Homo sapiens: one gene and its partners. The protein of the gene in region 1 purifies or fractionates together with the protein of each later gene. This does not show direct contact. Each region holds a gene or a part of one and is shown in the gene's direction. Other genes may lie near its edges. The genes, in order: GRHPR, PGM1 and SUCLA2.

Region 1 (7,108 bases):
AGGCCTCGCTGGGTGGACAGTCCAGTGGGTAAGAGCGGGGCCTTGGTGGCAGAGGCCCTGAGGTGAACCCGGCTCTGCCTGTGACTGAGCCAGGCCACTTAACCTCCCTGAACTGCAGTGTCTGAGGCTGTCAAAGGGGATTATTCAGAGTTTTAACTGAAGAACAGAGATGTCAGCCTCTTATTCTAAGAAAACAATAATAAGCGGTGTCCCCATGATAGTCCCCAGTGCTGTGGCTTTGAGTTCCTCGAGGAAAGATACTAACAATGCACTTTCTGCACAACAGGGGCCAATCTCAAAGTCATCAGCACCATGTCTGTGGGCATCGACCACTTGGCTTTGGATGAAATCAAGAAGCGGTAACTGCAGCTTGGGATCTGGAGGGGGCCTAGAGAGAGGGGTGGCTATGAGAGAAAGAAGAGCTGTTGATTTGTTTTTACTGCATATCCCTCGGCCATTCAGGGAGAATGTGAGGTGGCTGATGATAGAATCTGTCCACATGTGCACAGGTCAGTTACAATAAACCCCAGCAGTCAGAAACAGTGGGTAACTTCTGTGTAGGTGGCACCCTTTCACATTCATTATCTTTTTTGATCCCCACAACAATACCTTGAAGTAGCAAAGGCAGGTGTTATTCTTTCTGTTTCAGATGAGGAAATTCAGAAAGGTTAAGTTACTTGTTCAGTCCCTGAACCCTGATCTTCCATCTTCATATCCTTCCAAAGTGGGAGATAATCTAAATAGGAATGAGGACTGCCCGTTTTTGAGTGCTCATTTATAGTTCTGAGCTTCCTGGCAGGCAGATCAAAGAGGGAGCAAAGTAACTCCATGGAAATGTCCCAGCAGTAGACATTGGTAAATATGGTTGAGGCTGATGTTACCACCAGATGTCTGATTCGTAGTGGGATCCGAGTTGGCTACACCCCAGATGTCCTGACAGATACCACCGCCGAACTCGCAGTCTCCCTGCTACTTACCACCTGCCGCCGGTTGCCGGAGGCCATCGAGGAAGTGAAGAAGTAAGTGAACGCAGACCAGGTGCGGTGGCTCACGGCTGTAATCCCAGCACTTTGGGAGGCCAAAGTGAGCGGATCATGAGGTTAGGAGTTCGAGACCAGTCTGGCCAACATAGTGAAACCCCGTCTCTAGTAAAAATACAAAAAAAATTAGCTGGGTGTGGTGGTGGGTCCCTGTAATCCCAGCTACTTGGGAGGCTGAGGCAGGAGAATCATGTGAACCCAGGAGACAGAGGTTGCAGTGAGCTGAGATCACACCATTGCACTCCAGCCCAGGTGACGGTGTGAGACTCTGTCTCAAAAAAAAAAAGAAAAATAAGTGAACGCCTGGCAGGAACGTTGGCTCTGCTCAGCACTGGATCCTGATCACTGTGCCAGTCCAGCCCACGCATAGTCCCTGACCCCAGGTGTGCCCCATTGAGTGAGGACTCAGCTAAAATAAAGCACAAAGCAGAGCTGCAATAAGGGCAGAAAGGGAAGTGGTGAGAGAAGAGGATGAGGGAGGACAAACAAGTTCTGCTGGTGGGTGAGGGCTGGCAGGGAGAGTGTGGATCAGGGAGGGCTTCACAGAATAAGTAGCAGGTGGGCGTCCGCTTGAGTCCTGAAAGCTGCAGGTCCACCATCCCTTAGATCCCAAAATCTAAAAAGCTCGGACAGCTGAAAGTTCTTTCATACTAACAGGAGACTATTTAAGGCTTTTATTTCTCCCATTTAATGTGACTTTCCTAAGTTTTGCTGCAGATGTAACACTTTTAAAACAGGCTGCTGCCCAGACACTGCAGAGGGTGATGTGTGGAATCTACCACGTGCGCCATGCTGCCTTTCTAAAGGCCAAACAGTTTTAAAATCTAGCCTGAAGGTTTCAGATCAGGGATTTCGGCCTGTATATCAAGAGTTAGAGTTGGCCGGGCACGGTGGCTCACACCTGTAATCCCAGCACTTTGGGAGGCCGAGGCGGGCAGATTGTTTGAGCCTCAGGAGTTGGAGAACAGCTTGGGCAATGTGGCAAAAGTCTGTCTCTACAAAAAATACAAAAATTAGGCAGGCGTGGTGTTACACGCCTGTAGTCCCAACTACTCGGGAGGCTGAGGTGGGAGGATTGCTTGAACCCAGGAGGCAGAGGCTGCAGTGAACCGAGATCATGTCACTGTACTCCAGTCTGGGCGACACAGCAAGACCCTGTCTCCAAAAAAAAAAAAAAAAAAAGTTGGGGGAAGCATTCCATGTGCAGATGGAGGGACTGGCCCGAGTCAAGGTGGGAGGCGTGCAAACGCAGGCTCTCACAGTGCGTGGCCAGCAGCGTGGGCCCCGGCACGGGGCATGGAGCAGAGTAGACAGTGCTGAGTCCTGCTCACTGTCCTGTCTGGGGAGTCATCACATCTACTGGAGGTGGCTCAGGGCAGGCTCCATCTCTTGCCCAGGGCAGCAGGGTGGGCCCTGTGGCTGTACTCTTTGTTGCTGCCCTAAAGTGCCAAGAGAACTTGTTTTGGAATCATAAATCCTGAGTTTGCAGCCTGTTGCTCTCAACTCTTCCCTGGTTGTGTGACCTCAGGCAAGTCACCCTTTCTGGTTTGTTTTCCCATCTGCAAAACAGGATGAGAGCCAGTAAGGCCCCTTCCCGCCCTCAAGTTCTATGTCTCTGGTGGCTTTAAAGGTGGAGTCGTTTCTGCTGCTCATCTGCAGTGCCGAGTGGCAGTGCCTCATCCCACTCTCAGTCCGTGACCTGGAGGGTGGGTTTATACCTTGGACCACAGTCAGAGGTGCCGGGTTCTCAGCGGCCCCCATCTTGGTCCAAGGCTGGGCCTCTCACCTGCCCCTCTCTCTCCCCTCAGTGGTGGCTGGACCTCGTGGAAGCCCCTCTGGCTGTGTGGCTATGGACTCACGCAGAGCACTGTCGGCATCATCGGGCTGGGGCGCATAGGTGAGGCTCCCACCGGCCCGCTTGCCCGCCCCGGCTCTCACAGCGTGGTTTGCATCCCTGGCACCACGTGTCTGAAGGCTGAGAAGACCCACATGCTGTCAGGGCACTTTGCTTGCAGTAGAGATATCTCTAATGAGGGATACAGCTTTGTAAAACACAGGCAAATACATAAATAAACCAAAGCAGGATTCCTTAAGAACTCACCAGGTGATAAAAGCAAGTTGCCTAAGGGTCAGGGGGCTTCATGATTCCGGCTCCATAAAGAACAGATGAAGACTACAAATGTGTTGGGGCCGTTAGGAGTGGTTACCGTGAGAGAGCCCATTCCCCCGACACCTACTCCGGCTTGCGTTCTGGAAGGTATGTGACTCACAAAGCCCTAACTCGGGCCGGAGGGCTCAGTGGGCAGAGTTGATCTGCAGTTCTGCAGATGAGGCAGAGACACTTTTCTTCCAGTGGCCCTTATTTGGAGAAGCCTGGCAGAAGGGCGTGAGCCTAGCCAAGCAGCTATCTATTGGTGGTTCTCTGTCATCCTGCCTGGTGCAGGGGTGCGGGTGAGGGTGGAGAGTGTGGAGAACCTGTCTAGCCAACGAACAGCCCTGCCTCTCACTAGAGAGTTGCTTGGAGGAACCCAACAGCTTTGGGGCACGTTCTGAGCCTGAAAATCCAACTGTACAAATCTGTCTCAGCAGCAGCTTACATGAAAATTGTAAGTTTGGGGTGAGCTGGCAGTTTGGCAGTGCCACCAAAAAGTCAAATGGGGTCTGAGACTGCATTCACAGAAGCAGAGGGTCCAGGACAAAGGAGGGGACTGCTTGACCAGGTGTCTCCCTTGTGAAAACCTCTCCAGTTCTCAGAGGTTAGGAAAAACCTGAGTGGCTTTCCAGATGGCTTGGACCATGTGAGGACAGCATCAGCCAGTCACAGCCTCAGGGGAGCTGAGGTGCTGTCTCCAGATCCCTGGGGCAGTGTGGGCTGGCTGGGGGCTAGTTACAGTGGGGCAGCCAGCCCCCCACCCGCTTTGGAGGAGACAGGAGCAGGCAACTCGGGCTGTGCTGATGAAAAGGGTCTGCCCTGAGGGCCGCTGTTCCAGAAATGCTGGGTGGTGTCCCTACCCTTTGCGGGACTGGGAACGAGACATGGACTCTCCTTGCTCTAGGCCAGGCCATTGCTCGGCGTCTGAAACCATTCGGTGTCCAGAGATTTCTGTACACAGGGCGCCAGCCCAGGCCTGAGGAAGCAGCAGAATTCCAGGCAGAGTTTGGTAAGTGAAGCCTTGATTTCCACAGGAGCCTATCTGTGCCCAGTTGAGAGGCTGTATTTTCTCTCAATGGTGGCATTTTCAGGCAGAGGGCAGGAGCTCCAGGCATGTCCAGGGGCTGCTGTCTGGTAGATGTTTAATCTACCTGCCCCTGGACACTGGCCCACTCAGGGAGCACAGGGACTTACCCAGGTCCTCTCCGAGCCAGCAGAGCAGTCCAGGGCTCCCGTCTTTCAGAGTCCTTTGTTACCATTCCCCATTGTGGGCGGAGCAGCGGGGATGGTGGTGGGTGTGAGGAAGGGCTGGGCACTTTCACTGTCTTTTCCTTCATAAACTGGCAAGCACTACCCTAGCCTTTGTGTGCGCCCCTTAGTCCAGGCGGATCCAGCACCTGGCGGGTCCACAGCCTGGTGAGCAGATGGCAGGCTGGATCTCAAGCATTCCCCACGCCCCTGGGCACTTTGGGCCCTGAAGGTAGTTAAAGCCAGAGTGGTCCAGATCCCACTGTGTGTGATTTGACTTTGTGCACTCATGAGAGTTGTCCAGGTAGAGACTCGGCCTTCAGGAAGCATCTTGGGAGTTTCTGTTAGGGAGTCGGGAGCAAGGGGCTGGTCTCCCGCCATCTGGTTGTCCCTAGCCTGGGACTCAGTGCCTGATGGAGTCCTGCCCTCCCTCAGTGTCTACCCCTGAGCTGGCTGCCCAATCTGATTTCATCGTCGTGGCCTGCTCCTTAACACCTGCAACCGAGGGACTCTGCAACAAGGACTTCTTCCAGAAGATGAAGGAAACAGCTGTGTTCATCAACATCAGCAGGTATCCTAGGGCCACCTTACCCAGCAAGCCTGGAGAGGAGCCATCCCCACTGCTGCCATCTGGAGATTTTCTTCCCCGTGGGTTGTTGGTGAGACCCCAGGCTGAGCTTGCTGGTTTCCATAAACCAAACAACCAACTCAGAAATTCGTGGGAATACACGAGACCTCCGTACAGGGAAGAAGAGCCGTCAGAGTGGGCCTGGCCTGTCTGCTTCTCAGCAGTGGCCCCCACCCGGCGGGGCCTGGCACACAGCAGCGTGGCTTCAGGGAGTGTTCCCAGGGAGCCTCTGCAGGCCCATTATCCTCCACCACAAAGGGCTGGACTTGAGGATCTGAAGGGCCCTCTGGAGGCCGCCTCCCACACTGCTGAGCCTGGCTTTGTCTGGCTGTGGTTCAGTGATACTTTGAACCTTATGCTCCTGGGCGGACAGACCCTAAAACTCACGTGGTCGTAGCTCCTCACACTGTCCCTAGGGGTGCCTTCAGGCCACTGGGCATGTATGGAGGTCAGACCTTCCTTCTCTGCCACTCCAAGCCCTTCCTAGCTGGTGCCCCTTGAGCCTGTTTACATCAGTTTAGGGGAAGGGGGATTGGGTGAGGTCATCCTGAGGACTCGTCCACCCCAAAGGTACCTGTAATTACCAACATTTAGCTACAAAACAGGTGACCTGGGAATGGAAGAGTGAAACATGCAGGACCACAGGGCTCGCACTGCTGGCTGGCAGCAGTCACAGCTGCCGTGTACTGGGTGCCTGCATGTACCCAGGACAGCCCAGGACCGTGTATTACTCATTAGTGCACAAGTATTACTTAGTGCACAATATACAGTCTCTAGAAGATGACTTCTTGCCTTCAGTCGCCGCTCCCTTTGATGGCTGTGGTTAGGGGTGTGCTCGTTCCTCTGCCCTGGTTTAGACAGGTACCTGATAGCACACTGTGGTGCTTCTCAGTGGGGGTCTGGGGGTCAACCAGATCAGAAACACTTGGATGGGGCCTAACACAGATGCCCTTCTGGGCCCTGTTCATGCAGTAGAGCATGTAAGAAAGCTTTAATCCTCCCAACATGCCTGGGAGTTAGGTGGTATTCTCCTTATCTCACAGAGTAGATAATTTGAGACACAGATAATTCGAGGCACAGAGAATTTGAGACACTTGCCCAAGGTCACACAGCTAGAAGGAGGCAGGGCTGGAGTTCTCTGAGTATATAAGACTTACAGACATACTGTAAGTATACCTAAGACTTACTGCTTTAAAAGTCAGTGCCAAGTGAGTGGAAAAATTCATTCTGTAGGTTGTTCTGCCTCAAAGGTGGCCTGGGCGGAGGGATCTTCGGGGTACCCATGTCACCACTGTCATTCCCAGGGGCGACGTCGTAAACCAGGACGACCTGTACCAGGCCTTGGCCAGTGGTAAGATTGCAGCTGCTGGACTGGATGTGACGAGCCCAGAACCACTGCCTACAAACCACCCTCTCCTGACCCTGAAGAACTGTGGTAAGAACTGCACTTTCTGATGCAAACTCCCTGCTGCCCTGCAGGACCAGTGTTTTTGAGGGGGTCCCAAGGGGCCGGGTGTGGAGCTAGTGTGAGCAGGTGTTGAACCCAAAGGGACACACCAGGGATCGTAAATGTTTATGTTGTCAGTGACATGGGTGTATGACAGGAGCAGTCCTCTTGCGCATGCTCTGCTGGGTCTCTGTCCCTAAAGGAACAGAATGTAGGTGTGAGTGGATTTGTTTAAAAAAAAAGAGTGGGCCAGGCGTGGTGGCTCATGCCTGTAATCCCAGCACTTTGGGAGGCTGAGGTGGGTGGATCACGAGGTCAGGGGTTCGAGACCAACCTGGCCGATATGGTGAAACCCCATCTCTACTAAAAATACAAAAATTAGCCAGGTATGGTGGTGCATGCCTATAGTCCCAGCTGTTTGGGAGGCTGAGGCAGAAGAATCGCTTGAACCCAGGAGGCACAGGTTGCAGTAGGCCGAGATTGTGCCACTGCACTCCAGCCTGGGTGGCAGAGTGAGACTCCATCTCCAAAACAACAACAACAACAAAGTGGGCTGACTACATGTCTCCATGTGTTACACCACAGTGACTCGT
Region 2 (7,108 bases), on another chromosome or scaffold:
CGCAGCACATGAGTGGCACCCCACCTAACACAGCAGTACCTGGCAAGACGCCACAGTTTAGGACCTGGAGCATCTCTAGATGTGGACAGAATTGTTAGTGCTTCCCTTACTGTGTGCCGGGTACCCTAGGCTGCAGGCTGGGTCAGGCTTTCTCCTGGCTTCTCATGAACACTTACGCACCAGGGTTCTCTCACCTCTGCTTCTGTTGCCTGTTGTCACAGAGTAAACTCATCTCTCACAATTCATAATAGAATAAAGAGCAGGATGAAGATTCTGTTACAACCTCCCAGTTTACTTTTTTCCAATTGACCCAGATTTTTGGCCTGGTCCTTGTCAAGGCATCTCATAGGGTTTGGAAGGGCCGGGCCGTGGGATTTACTGGAGGCTTCCCTCTGGGGAGCAGGCAGTGAATGGATGGATGGGCCACAGCAACCCTCAGTGCCTGGAGTCTCCCCTCCTCAACTTCTAGCACAAGTGGTTTCTCATCCTTGTGCCTGTTTGCCATTTGTGAGAACTTGGGGTCCAGTTTGGATGATTGTAAATTATGCCTGAGATAATTAGAAGAGAGACCTGTGGTTGAGGAAGAAAGGGGTGTAGAAAAGGAGTGGAGCTGAGGGATGGCAGAGTGGGACAGAAGTTTGTGTCATTAAGCCTTCAGAGACAGAAGGGAAGTCAAGGAAAAGTAAATCCCAGCTCTGCAGTGCCTCTGGCATCTGCCAGGAGGGAGAAGAGGTGTAAAGGTGTGTATAGGAGACAGTGGCCTAAGCTCGAGAGCTGCCCTCTGTGCTGTAAAGAAAGCAGCTGCCCCACTTTCTGTAATCAGAAAATCCAAGCATTTTGATGTGAGACCAGATAGGAGGGAAAAATATGATCCAACATATATAGATAGAACATCTGCAATCTAGTGAAAAGAATTTTAGAGGCTTCAAGTTGAAGCTGTGAAGAAAGGAGACCAACCCTGGTGTGTTCCTAGAAAGCAAGAAATGGTCAGTGAAAATGGACCGTATCCTTCCCATAGTGACTAACTGTGGCATATCCTCTGTGTATTTCATCTACTGTCTTCACTAATCAGTGCTAATGAATGGCACCATTAAACACCAGATGGGGATTGGTGACGAACAGCAGGTGAAGAGCAGCATCTTTTTGGTCAGTCTTTGGTGTTATGCAAGGTTCTCCTTTTTACAGAGGATGGATAGACTCATAAAGACTGAAGAGTCCTCAGGCAACTTCTGTCCCAGCCTTCTTCCCTCAGGTTGGGAAATATCTACCCCAGAGTTCCCACACATTTTTCCCCAAGTGAGAAGATAATTGATGTCCAGAGATACCGCTGGGGAGGAAAAAGAGAGGGCAGCAGAGAGAAGGATGGGCTTGGCACTTCACACGGACCTCGCTTTGGGTCCATCAGGGATTGGCAGGAGATTGGCCACTGGCTCCTGCTTGTTAGGTTGGGAATAGCCAGTCTCTGCCATTTGGGACCTCTGACTTCCTGTTCTCTTTTGAGGACCTTTGCTAGTGGTTTGTAAGAGTCCTTCCCCTCATCTGCCTGAAACCTCTTCAGCTCTGGTTTCAGCCCCTTTGGTCCATGTTTCCCTCTTGATCTGGGGGCTGAATTTTTGCATCTAGCAGCTTTATGTGCTTCATTATTAAGCTTCAAACTGGAATGGTTAGTCCATAAATCACAGGGAAGTGGGGAGAGGAGGGAAGCCCTCACATCACCCAGCATCACTGAGGTCAGGTCTCCCCTGACCCTGGAAATGCTTCTCCCACCGTAGCTAAGCCCCCATCAGCTGGATGCAGAGAGGGTGACGGAAGGCAGGCTCACAAGGTGCAGCTGCTGCCATTTATCAAGGATTTAACCCTCCAATGAACAAGTATGGATGAAATTACATCCCCAAATAGACCCCTCATAATTTGCCAGCCTTCAGTCTCCCAGCATTTGGGGAAAAAAATCTCTGCTTATCTTTTCCAGGGCTTGCGCCTCATTTTCACAGATGGTTCTCGAATCGTCTTCCGACTGAGCGGCACTGGGAGTGCCGGGGCCACCATTCGGCTGTACATCGATAGCTATGAGAAGGACGTTGCCAAGATTAACCAGGACCCCCAGGTAACGCCCAGCCCTGTGCCCTGGTTAGTTCTTTCTGTTCAAGGGAATGATAGTTTCCCATTGAGCCTGTGTTTCAATGCCCATTTCTCAAATGACTCAACAAGGTACCAGCTGTGCTTACTTTCTTCCATGTTTCTTTCTCCATGTCAACATTATAGATAATAATTATAATAATAAAAATAGGGAGGCTGAGGTGGGAGGATCACCTGAGCCCAGGAGGTCAAGCCTGCAGTGAGCCAAGATCACACCACTGCACTTCAGCCTGAGCAAGAGTGAGACCTTATATCAAAAATTAATTAATTAATTAATTAAAAATAAAAAATTTTCTGAGCATTTATGGTTTGCCAGGCTGTGTTGTAAGCCCATTATGAAAATATACTCATTTAATTCTCAAATAACTTAGACTGTTATTCTCCCTGCTACAGATAAGGAAACTGAGGCACAGAAAAGTTAAGCAACAGTTAATAGGTTTACATGCCTAGTAAGGATAATGAATCTCTCTTTTTTTTTTTTTTTTTTTGAGACAGGGTCTCACTCTGTTGCCCAGGCTGGAGTGCAATGGCACAATCTCAGCTCACTGCAACATCCACCTTCTGGGCTCAAGCAATCCTCCTACCTCAGCTACCTGAGTAGCTCGGATTACAGGCACGTGCCACCATGCTCTGCTCATTTCCTTTTTTTTTTTTTTCTTTTTGTAGGGAGGAGGTCTTAGTACATTGCCTAGGCTGGTCTTGAATTCCTAGCCTCAAGTAATCCTCCTACCTCAGCCTCCCAAAGTGCTGGGATTATATGTGTGAGCCACTGCACCCAACCCAGGATAATTGGTCTTTAAATCAGCCCCTCATCTGGTGTTCTGCTCTGTCTGCAGCATTTTGTTGCTTTGTTTGGTCTGATCACCTGCTTGGGCAGAACACACCACTGGGTCTTAGATTTGGTGGGGGCAGGGAGAGGCAGTTTCATGTGTCTTCACAGAACAGTCTGCAGACCTGCAGCTTGGTAAGCTGGGTTCCTCAGCCATTCCCCCAAAAGTCTTCAGAAGTATATCAGAGTAAGGAGGGACTCTGGGAGCAAAGGGTGGGACAGTGAACTTGAAGGACAACCCCCAAAAATGGAGGAGCCAAGGGGAAGCAGTGAAGGACAGGACAGTTTCTTTAAGTGTTTTTCACAATCCTTATCTCAACCAGAGCTCCATAGCTTAAAAAAAAGTTGGGGAAGTGTTGTGGTATATTAGCCCCTTCTTGGTGATTCACAGCATACAATGCAATGCACCATAAAGGCTCCAAGATTTCGGACATGGTGGCCTGCACCTGTGGTCCCAGCTACTCAGGAAGCTGAGGCAGGAAGATCACTTGAGCGTAGGAGTTCTGGGCTATAGTGTGCTATGCCTGTCGGGTGTCTGCACTAAGTTTGGCATCAATATGGTACCTCCCGAGAGGGGAACCACCAGGTTGCATAAGGAGGGGTGAACCGGCCCAAGTTGGAAACAGAGCAGGTCAAAACTCCCATGCCGATGAGTAGTGGGATTGCACCTGTGAATACCCACTGCGCTTCAGCCTGGTGACATAGCAAGACCCCATCTCTAAAAAAAGAAAAGGAAAGAAAAAAAGAGGGTGCTGAGAAGACTTGCAGTAAAGGTGCCTGTTTACATAGCATTTGCTGAAGGACATTTCTCCAAAGAAAACATACAAATGGCCAACAGGCGTATGAAAAGGTGGTCCACATCACTAATCATCAGGGAAATGAAAATCAAAACCACAATGAGCTGTCACCTCACACCTGTTAGGATGGCTGTTCTCAAAAAGACAAAAGATAACAAGTGTTGGGAAGGATGTGGAGAAAAGGGAACCATCAGACACTATTGGTGGGAATATAAATTGGTATAGCTATTTTGGAATAACCAAAATATGGAGGTTCCTCAAAAAGTTAAAAATATTTTAGTACTAATATACGATCCAGTAATCCCTCTTCTGGGTATATATTCAGAGGAACTGAAATAAATATGTCAAAGAGATATCTGTTCTCTCTTGTTCATTCAATATTATTCACAATAGTCAAGATATGGAACCAGCCTAAGTGCCCATCTACAGATGAATGAAGACATTGTGGTGTGTGTGTGTGTGTGTGTGTGTGTGTGTGTGTGTATACCACAATGGAAAATTATTCTGCCTTAAAACAACAAAAACCAAAATCTTGCCAATCTTGCCATTTGCAATAACATGGATGAACCTGGAGGACATTATGCTAAGTGAAATAAGCCAGACACAGAAAGGCAAATACTGCATGATTTCACTTGTATGTGGGATCTAAAAAAAGTGAATCTCATAGAAACAGAGCAGAAAGGGGCTTACTAGGGGGTAGTGAATGGGGAAAATGGAGAGATATTGGTCCAAAGGGTACAAAATTTCAGTTATGTAGGATGTAGCAGTTCTAGAGATGGAATGTACAACATGATGGCTATAATGAATAACACTTGAAATGTACTAGGAGAATAGATCTTAATTGTTCTCACTATCACCACCACAACAAAAAAGGTAAGTAGGTGACAAGATTGATAATGTTAGTTGGCTTGACTCTAGTAATCAGTTCACTATGTATTTGTATATCAAGACATCATATTATATACCTTAAACATAAACAATTTTTATTAAAAAATTGAAAGTAAAATAAAATAAATAGCATTTGCCATGCTTATTTTTCCACAAAGGCTTTTTTCTTTTAACACCTAATTAAAATCCTGTGAAACTCATTTGGAAACCCCTGGCATAGTGGTTTTGAGCAAAGTTAAAGAGATCTTGTTTTAAATTCTATTCCTGCCACTTAATAACTGTGTGTCCCTGGGTAAGTTGTTACAATTTTATGAATCTTGGTTTCCTTGTCTGTCAAATGGCAGAGTAATACCTACTTCATCTAGTTGTTACCGGGGTTTAAGGAGATAATAAATGTAAAATGTTTAAACACTGTGGCTGGCATATAGGATTAACTTTTCAGAATAAGCAGCACTCTTAGTTTTTTTAGTCTAACTTTAAGTGTAACATAATGCTATTATAACCATTTTTAAGTATATAGTTTAGTAATGTTGTACATATTCATATTGTTGTCCAACGTATCTCTAAAACTTTTTTCCCCCAAAACTAAAACTCTGTACCCATTGAACAGCACCTCCCTGCTTCTCCCTTTTCACAATCCCTGGTACCACCTTTCTCCTTCCTGTGTCTGTGAATTTGACCATTGTAGGTACCTCACATGAGTAGTATAGTTGCTTTTATTACAGAAAGTGGGAGATGAGAGAATGCTTCACTTTTACATTTTTTCCAGTGGCCAGGCCCCAGTTTCAGTCATCACCAGTACCTTGTTGTGTTGTAGGCATCCCTAAAACTTCAACCAAAGGCAATGGGGTCTGCATTATAGACACTTAATAGCACAAGAGAAAAGGAAGAAGGAAATTGTGTTTGTCTTTTGATCATCAAGATAAATGCCTGGCACGTGGTAGATTCAAAGAGTGAATGAAATTTGTTTCCTCTGAACCATAGTCCTCAGCAGGTGGAATGGCAGTGGATGGTGTGAGGTTCCCACAATGCCCAGGTGTATCACCATCTAGCCGGGGAGCTGCCTTTCCTTATTCTGCAGCTGCTAGGCCATCAGCACTTTGTGGGGACTGCCCAAGCCCTAAGGGGAAATGTGGTAGTTTCAGCAGGTGGAGTTGATTCTCCTTTTCCAGGTATAATGGATCGGTGGAGATTTAGATAAGAAAAAGTAGCATTCAGCAGTAGAAAATGTACTACTCCTGGCTCTGCTATTGAGTCATTTAGTCAAATCACTTCATCTCTTTGGGTATCAGTTTTCTCATCTGTAAAATGGGCAGTTCAACCAGATTAGTAGTTTTTTTTTTTTTTTAATATTGAAAGCATTTATTAAGCAACAGAATTCTCTCTTTTTTTTTTTTTTCTTTAAGCGAGAAGTAGATGTGGGGAGGGGTTGTTGCATTTTTAAAGATTCCTGTATTAGGCCGGGTGCGGTGGCTCACGCCTGTAATCCCAACACTTTGGGAGGCCAAGGCAGGCAGATCACCTGAGGTCGGGAGTTCAAGACCAGCCTGACCAACATGGAGAAACCCCATCTCTACTAAAAATACAAAATTAGCCGGGCGTGGTGGCGCATGCCTGTAATCCCAGTCACTAGAGAGGCTGAGGCAGGAGAATTGCTTGAACCTGGGAGCCAGAGATTGTGGTGAGCCAAGATCGCAGCATTGCACTCCAGCCTGGGCAACAAGAGTGAAACTCCATCTCAAAAAAAAAAAAAAAAGATTCCTGTATTAGTCTGTTTTCACACTGCTGATAAAGACATACCTGAGACTGGGCAATTTACAAAAGAAAGAGGTTTAATTGGACTTACACTTCACGTGGCTGGGGAAGCCTCACAATCATGGTGGAAGGCAAGAAAGAGCAAGTCATGTCTTACATGAATGGCAGCAGGCAAAAGAGAGAAATTGTGCAGGGAAACTCCTGTTTTTAAAACCATTAGATCTCATGAGACCCATTCACTATCATGAGAACAGCACAGAAAAGACCCACCCCCATGATTCAATCATCTCCCACCGGGTCCCTCCCACAACACTTGGGAATTATGGGAGCTACAAGATGAGATTTGAGTGGGGACACAGAGCCAAACCACATCAGTCCCATTGGGAACAGTGTGGGAAAGAAATTGGAAGATGCACAAGTGGATGTGGAGGCACTCACTGCTCCAGGTAAGAGACAGGACATTGACTTAGCAAGACTTAACAGCAGGAGAGTGGAGAGAAAAGGGGGCCATGGAGAGAGATTTAGCGGGGAAAAGTCATTGAGGCCTGCTCATGGACTGGGCATGGGGAAAATGCAGAGGAAGATGTCAGGAGCAACTCCTAGTTGTTCACTTTACATGAAAGACTGTAGTGTTGATCCACTGAAATAGAAACTGCTGGAACTAGGTATTGGGGGAAATAACATGTGTTTGTTTTTGGATTTG
Region 3 (7,108 bases), on another chromosome or scaffold:
ACTAAACAGTAGTTTGAGAGGTTGCTGGGTTTTTTTTTCTTTTTTTTTTTTTTTTTAACTTATTTATTTGTTTTTTTAGACAGGGTCTTGCTCTGTTGACCAAGCTGGAGGACAGTGGTGAAATCACAGCTCACTGCAGTCTCAAACTCCTGAGCTGAAGGGATCCTCCTGCCTCAGTCTCAGGAGTAGCTGGGATTATAGGTGTAAGCCACTGTGCCCAGCTTGGTTGCTGGCTTTTAATATTGAAGTGACACTAAATCAAGGAATTGAGCTACCTAGGTCAAATGTTACCAAGGATTTTAGCTTGCTAAATGGATCAGAAATAAGTTGCTATTATATATGATTGATTTGTAAGACTAGTAGTTCTCATAACTGTAGGGTTCTTAAGAATCAACTGAGTGACTTGTTATGAATGCAGATTTCCTTGGGCCCAGTCCAGAGATTCTAATAGTGCAGTTGAGAATGGGTCTCAGGAATCTGCAGATTACAAGCACCCAGTTAATTTTGAGGCAAAAGCTTATGAACCTACTTTAAGAAACAGATTGTTTCTATGACCTCTTTAAATTTAATTCTTAGGACACTGTGTGTTTCATATGAACCATGTTTCAGTATACTGCATTCTGTATTGAGATTATGGAAATGCGTGGATAACATTTAAATGTGTGATTCCATTGACCAGTCATTGGGTGCAGGCTGACAGTGGGAAGGAGGTGTGACTTTGGGCAAGTAGGCTCCAGTAAGAGGACTTGGCTGAGAGCTGTCAGCAACCAGCACTCCCAGCAGCAGCAGTGGGGGCTATGAATGCCTTGGTCCTGAATGGGGAGTGCCAGGGAGATCTGGGCAGCATACTGCAACATCCACTACAGATGAAGCCATGGTTTTGAATATCGAGTGTATGAAAGAGTAATGGTATCAAATCATTTTATTATTACATATCTAGTGCCAGGTGACTTGTTAGGTGTGGAGGAATGGTAGAGAGAAGAAAATTGGGAAGGATTTTTGGTTTGGTGGAAAAGATGAGATTGGTTTTAGATCCGCTGAATTTGGCATTGAGGTAGAACTGCCCTGTAGATCATTGGAGATATGATAGTAAAGCTGAAATCTGAAATAAGGAATAGAGATGATGAGGAAATAATTAAAATGACAGTGGTAACAGTGATATTTAGCTGATAGGCTAGCTTTTAGTTTTATGCTGTAATTCAGGTACTCTGAATATTGTACTTTGCTAATGTAATGTAACAGTTTTGTTATAGTTATGAAGAACCAAGTAGTTAGCAAGAGTGACTGCCAAATCACTGTCATATATAAATATGTCCCCAATCTTTCTAGGTTCTGGGAAGTTCTGGATTGTTTAATAACCATGGACTCCAAGTACAGCAGCAACAGCAAAGGAATCTCTCACTACATGAATACATGAGTATGGAATTATTGCAAGAAGCTGGTGTCTCCGTTCCCAAAGGATATGTGGCAAAGTCACCAGATGAAGCTTATGCAATTGCCAAAAAATTAGGTACTAAATTAAGAAAAGCTTTTGCCACCTTGACATGAGAGCTCTGAGAAGATTTGAAGTTTGTTTTTGGTTTGATAACAACTTTTAGCTTTTTTTTAAAAAAAATACATTTTCTTTGCTTAAAATAGAAGGTAGAACTTTATTATTATTGAAATTCTAAAATTATTATTATTATTATTATTATGAGCACCCATAATGCCAGTGACGTGGGAGTCACTTACATTGGCATTAGGAAGCTGAAGTCCTGTTTTTAGTTGGAATATAATTATGGGGAAGGGAATTCTACTACTACCACTCTAACTACTCTGGAGCTTAAAGGATGGCAGTTGTGATGATTCTTCAGGGAAATGGTGAAGGAAAATCTTAGCTGTTTATGTGCTTATAAGGAGAGGTCCGTGCTTCCCCCTCCATTTTTTTGTCATGAAAAATATGGAACCAAAGGGGAACAAAAAGTAGAGTGCTAGAATGTAAACTCCTTGAGAGCAGAGTTTCTTTTTCTTTTCTTTTTTTTTTTTTTTTGAGACGGAGTTTCATTCTTATTGCCCAGGTTGGAGTGCAATGGTGCAATCCTGGCTCACTGCAACCTCCGCTTCCCGGGTTCAAGGGATTCTCCTGCCTCAGCCTCCCGAGTACCTGGTATTACAAGCACCACCACCATGTCCGGCTAATTTTTTTGTATTTTTAGTAGAGACGGGTTTTCACTATGTTGGCCAGGCTGGTCTTGAACTCCTGACCTCGTGATCTGCCCGCCTCCGCCTCCCAAAGTGCTGGGATTACAGGTGTGAGCCACCACATACAGCCCGAGTTTCTTTTTCTTATTTGTTCACTGATATATCCCAAAATCTTAGAAGAATGCCTGACACTTAGGTAATCAATAAATACTAAATGAATAAATATTAAATGAATTTAATAGTTGCCCATGTTTATTAGCAGATTCCTTTATTGATAACAGAAGCCTTAATAGCTTTTGTCAATTTGAATTAATCTCTTAATCAAAAAATAATTTTTGATTTCAGAAAATAAGCTTACATTTTTAAAGATTTAGCATGAAAACCATGAGCTGATGTACTAGCTATACACTGCAGTTTCTTTTTAGCAGTATTTTAAATCCCACCAATTTTACGTAGATTAGCATAAATAATCTCTCTTCTATGTACATTTAATTAATAGGCTTTAAATATGATTTGGTGAATACTTTGCTTTTATATTTTTTAAGAAAGATGAGCATTTTCAAAGTGATTGAAATTTTAAAAGTATTCATCTTGTGTAGTACTTATTTGTATCTAGAATGGATTTTTCTTTCAAAATTAAGGATATATACAAGTTCAGAAAACTGTCATATAAGCTATGTTTTTGAATGAGATGGCCATGATTTCCTTGACTTGGAAGCATGATTTTTCATTTATAGTTTTGTTGTTTTTATTGTTGTTAATCAGAAAGAATTATTTTAAATCAGATTACAAGCAAACTTTTTATTAAGCAAAAGCTTTGTATAAGTTCATACTAATTGTGGTGAAATTTTTGTTAATGGTGACCTATAATTGGAACTTCTGCATGGTTAATGTTAATGGGACCTGATTTATATATAATTACGTCGGTAAAAATGGTTTTCCTCTTGTTTCCAGATTTTAAAATTCCAAAAAAAAATTTTTTTTAGAGATAGGGTCACTATGTTGCCCAGGCTAGTCTGAAACTCCTGGGCTCAAGTGATCCTCCTACTTAGGCCTCTGAGTAGCTGGAACTACAGGCACATGCCACTGTGTCTATTTTTTGAGTATTATAATTGGTTTCTTTAACTAGTTTTCCGTATATTTTCTCATTTAGTGAAATTCCATTGTTTTGTCAGAAAAAATAATTTGCATAGAAACTTTTTCATAAAATGAATAGGATTAATTCAGATGCCAATCTGTTTTGATTATGCCTTATAAAAACTTAATGATTCTTAGGTACAGAAGAAAGAAATAATATGTGCAGGATAAACTGTAACTATGAGTATTTCTGGCAAGTTCTCTGGGACCAGAACTCACAAGTAATAAGAAGCAGGTAGGCAGCTCTGATTTTGAGCCCCTTGGAACAGATACCTTGTTCATTTAGAAAGTGTGTTTTTTGTCAAAGAATATTGCAAATGATGATTATAGTGTGGGAGGGAGACTAATAATTAACAAGGAAATTTAAATCTAGAGGAGCAGAAATGCTAGTTTTTAAAAGATAAATTTAGAAACGTCTATGAAAATATGGAGGACAATTTCGTGGTTTTTTTTTTTTTTTTTTTTTTGAGACGGAGTCTCACTCTGTCGCCCAGGCTGGAGTGCAGTGGCGCGATCTCGGCTCACTGCAACCTCCGTCTCCCAGGTTCAAGCAATTCTCCTGCCTCAGCCTCCTGAGTAGCTGGGATTACAGGTGCCCGCCACCATGCCCAGCTAATTTTTGTATTTTTAGTAGAGACGGGGTTTCACCATGTTGGTCAGGCTGGTCTCGAACCCCTGACCTTGTGATCCACCCGCCTAGGCCTCCCAAAGTGCTGGGATTACAGGCGTGAGCCACCGCACCCAGCCCAATTTTGTGTTTTTAGTGAGTCATTGATAACAAAAGATAACGATTATGGGATCTAGTTGCACAAGGTGTAGAATGAGGGACCTTAGAAATACACTTGGTTTTGTTCATGTAGCTAGCAATTCCCAATGCTGAGTTTTCATTACTTCAGGGTGATTTTTGCTTTTTGACTTTCTGCAAAATTCATAAAATGCTAATTTTCATTTCATAAAAACTCTTTTTTTTTTTTTTGAGACGGAGTTTCGTTCTTGTTGCCCAGGCTGGAGTGCAATGGCGCCATCTCAGCTCACCGCAACCTCCGCCTCCTGGGTTCAAGCAACCTCTGCCTCCTGGGTTCAAGCAGTTCTCCTGCCTCAGCCTCCTGAGTAGCTGGGATTACAGGCATGTGCCACCACCCCGGCTAATTTTGTATTTTTAGTAGAGACAGGGTTTCTCCATGTTGATCAGGCTGGTCTTAAACTCCCGACCTCAGGTGATCCACCTGCCTCACCCTCCCAAAGTGCTGGGATTACAATAGGCGTGAGCCACCAGGCCTGGCCTTCATAAAAACTCTTAACTCAGCGCTTTGCTCAACAAGTGACATAATAGAACATAAATGCTTTACAGGTGTGCCAAACTATTGTTTCTTCCCAGTCCTGTGGTGGCAGGAGAAGTTGAGTTAGCATGGGGTTTGGGGCCACTGAGCCTCTTTACCCAGTATTTCCTACCATGTCCATCATTTTCTGTTTGTGTGATGATGTGAAAAAAGTTGAGAGGCATTGTCCTGTAGGCAAGTTTTACCTGCTGTGAATAATTGAGGTTAGGAATGGAGGAATGGTTAGAAAGAAATCTAATTCTAATATTTTAAAAGACTATATGAGTCCCCAAAATGAAGGTTGGTGAGCTTGAAGATCATGAAGTTTCTGGAATAGATTATCAAAGGGATGGTTATTAGCACAGATAAATGTAGTAGATATTATTTGGGGTCAGTTCTGAGAGCAAATTATCTCTAACAGTTCATAGTTCAAGGAAATATGATTTTAGTAAGGGTTTGGCAGAATGTTTGTTGTTTTGTTTCTGAGACAGTGTCTTGTTCTGTCACCCAGGCTGGAGTGCAGTGGTGTGATCATGGCTCATTGCAGCTTCGACCTCCTGGGCTCAAGCCACTTCTCCCGTCTCAGCCTGCTGAGTAGCTGGGACTATAGGTGTGCTCCACCATGCCTGGCTAATTTTTGTATTTTTTCTTGAGATGGGGTTTCACCATGTTGCCCAGGCTGGTCTCAAACTCCGGGGCTCAAGCCTTCCACCCACCCTTGGCTTCCCAAAGTGCTGGGACTACAGGCGTGAGCCACTGCGCCTGGGCACAGATTTGGCAGAATTTTTATAATTTCCCTATTGACTATAGAAAGATAGTTTGGCTTCTAGTATATTTAAGGTGGAATCCCTATCTGGTTGAATAGATACATGTAAAGGGTGCTGATTAATGAATGTCAGCCCGGAGGGAGATTTCTAATGGCATATAATAGGACTTTACCTTCTTTCTTTCTTTTAAATATTTATTAGTTAGATACCTGTATACAAGGAATGCTTAAAATGTTTGTGAGTGACTAAAGGTAGCTGGGATAGTGATTGTGTTTTAGAGACAGTCTTGGGATCCAAAAAAGATCTTGTCTGACTAGAGCAGTGCCAAATGTAATAAGACTGCAGGTTCTATGAGGGCAGGAGAGGTCTCACTCACTGTTGTATCTACAACGCTAGCACAGTGTCTGGTATGTAGATGAACCTGTTGAGTGAATTAATGGAATTGAATAAAATGTTTGTTTCGACCAGTTGTCCTCAGACTTCTCTTCTAATCTTTCTTCCTTTCTTGATAGTTGATGAGACTGTATTTCATGAAAAATTTTTTTTTTTTTTTTTTTTTTGCTTTCGTTGTGAAGGGCTTTTTTTTTTTAGAAGGAACTTTCGAAGAATCATCTTTTGCCCTTAAAGACTTTATATTCCTAAAGAAAGGAAATTGACACTTTGCGGGGAAGAGAAGAACCTTCTGTCTTGCCAAGTGTTTTTGAAAAAATAGAGCTTCGTTACTCTTAATAGGTCAATGTGTTAAGTTCCCAGTTTAATGAATAGGAATGATTGAATTTAGCTCAGTAAAGCACAGTGTAACTATGACCATTTTTTACATTACATTTGCACTGTTTGCCTTGTAGTTCTCTTCTTCGGATATAAACAAATATTTAAAGTGCTGGAAAATCAGGACTGGACAGGTAAACAGAAACAAGTGGAATAAATAGTGGCTGCTCCCTTCCGTTTGGGCACAAACTCTCTAATTTGCCATGGTTCAGAGACAACCTGTAGTATTCTCAATAAGAACGTTATTGTTGGTTTTAAGGAAATTTCTGAGTTGTTTCTATTTGTTACCTAATATTAGTTGTGATACATTTGTGAATAGTAGAGACAGGGTAATTGAAAAGGGTTTGTCTTATCTAAACAAGATACTTTTTCTAATCAGCTCTAGTTGTAGTACTGTGCACCCAGTTTTTCCCATTGGGAGTTTTCGTAAGAGCAGTGAAGAAATCTAGATTTATAAGAATTCTGTTCATATTTTTAAATGTTCCTTTTTTTCAACATTCAGCAAAATATTATGTGCTAGGAACTCTCCCAGACGCTTGTTAACATCTATGAATACAACAAAGATTCTGCCCTCCTGGGCCTCTTTTCTGATGGGGAAGCAAAACAACAAATGATATATGTAAGAGAATTACATATGTACGAAGATGATGAATTCTATGGCGGAAAGAAGTGTAGTAGGTAAGGGGGATTGGTCACAGGTGGGCAGGTTAGTAGGGTAAGCTTCATGGGCAACATGAGATTTAAAGAGAAACTTGAAGGATCGGGGGCTTTTCCCACATGGACACCTGGTGAAGAGTATTCTAGGCAGAGGGTGCATTAGAGCCAAGTCCTGAAGGCAGGAACATGCCCAGGAATAGTGAGGGGATTAGTGCAGTTGGAACAGAGTGAGCAACCAGGAGGGCCTAGGAGATAAAAAGTGTAGAGGGTATTATAAGG

What was found.
Region 2: the proteins of GRHPR (region 1) and PGM1 fractionate together in Homo sapiens (co-fractionation; 3 studies listed by BioGRID). This does not show direct contact.
Region 3: the proteins of GRHPR (region 1) and SUCLA2 fractionate together in Homo sapiens (co-fractionation; 2 studies listed by BioGRID). This does not show direct contact.

What each region holds. Positions count from the first base shown.
Region 1 is NC_000009.12:37,425,636-37,432,743, forward strand, and holds part of GRHPR (glyoxylate reductase/hydroxypyruvate reductase), read left to right. Parts: intron 1-286; coding exon 287-359; intron 360-902; coding exon 903-1,019; intron 1,020-2,848; coding exon 2,849-2,937; exon of another isoform or gene 2,938-3,206; coding exon of another isoform or gene 3,207-3,297; intron 3,298-4,096; coding exon 4,097-4,201; intron 4,202-4,875; coding exon 4,876-5,011; intron 5,012-6,372; coding exon 6,373-6,503; intron 6,504-7,108. UniProt on the Homo sapiens protein: Enzyme with hydroxy-pyruvate reductase, glyoxylate reductase and D-glycerate dehydrogenase enzymatic activities. Reduces hydroxypyruvate to D-glycerate, glyoxylate to glycolate, oxidizes D-glycerate to hydroxypyruvate.
Region 2 is NC_000001.11:63,652,363-63,659,470, forward strand, and holds part of PGM1 (phosphoglucomutase-1), read left to right. Parts: intron 1-1,969; coding exon 1,970-2,104; intron 2,105-7,108. UniProt on the Homo sapiens protein: Catalyzes the reversible isomerization of alpha-D-glucose 1-phosphate to alpha-D-glucose 6-phosphate. The mechanism proceeds via the intermediate compound alpha-D-glucose 1,6-bisphosphate.
Region 3 is NC_000013.11:47,991,245-47,998,352, reverse strand, and holds part of SUCLA2 (succinate--CoA ligase [ADP-forming] subunit beta, mitochondrial precursor), read left to right. Parts: intron 1-1,329; coding exon 1,330-1,510; intron 1,511-7,108. UniProt on the Homo sapiens protein: ATP-specific succinyl-CoA synthetase functions in the citric acid cycle (TCA), coupling the hydrolysis of succinyl-CoA to the synthesis of ATP and thus represents the only step of substrate-level phosphorylation in the TCA.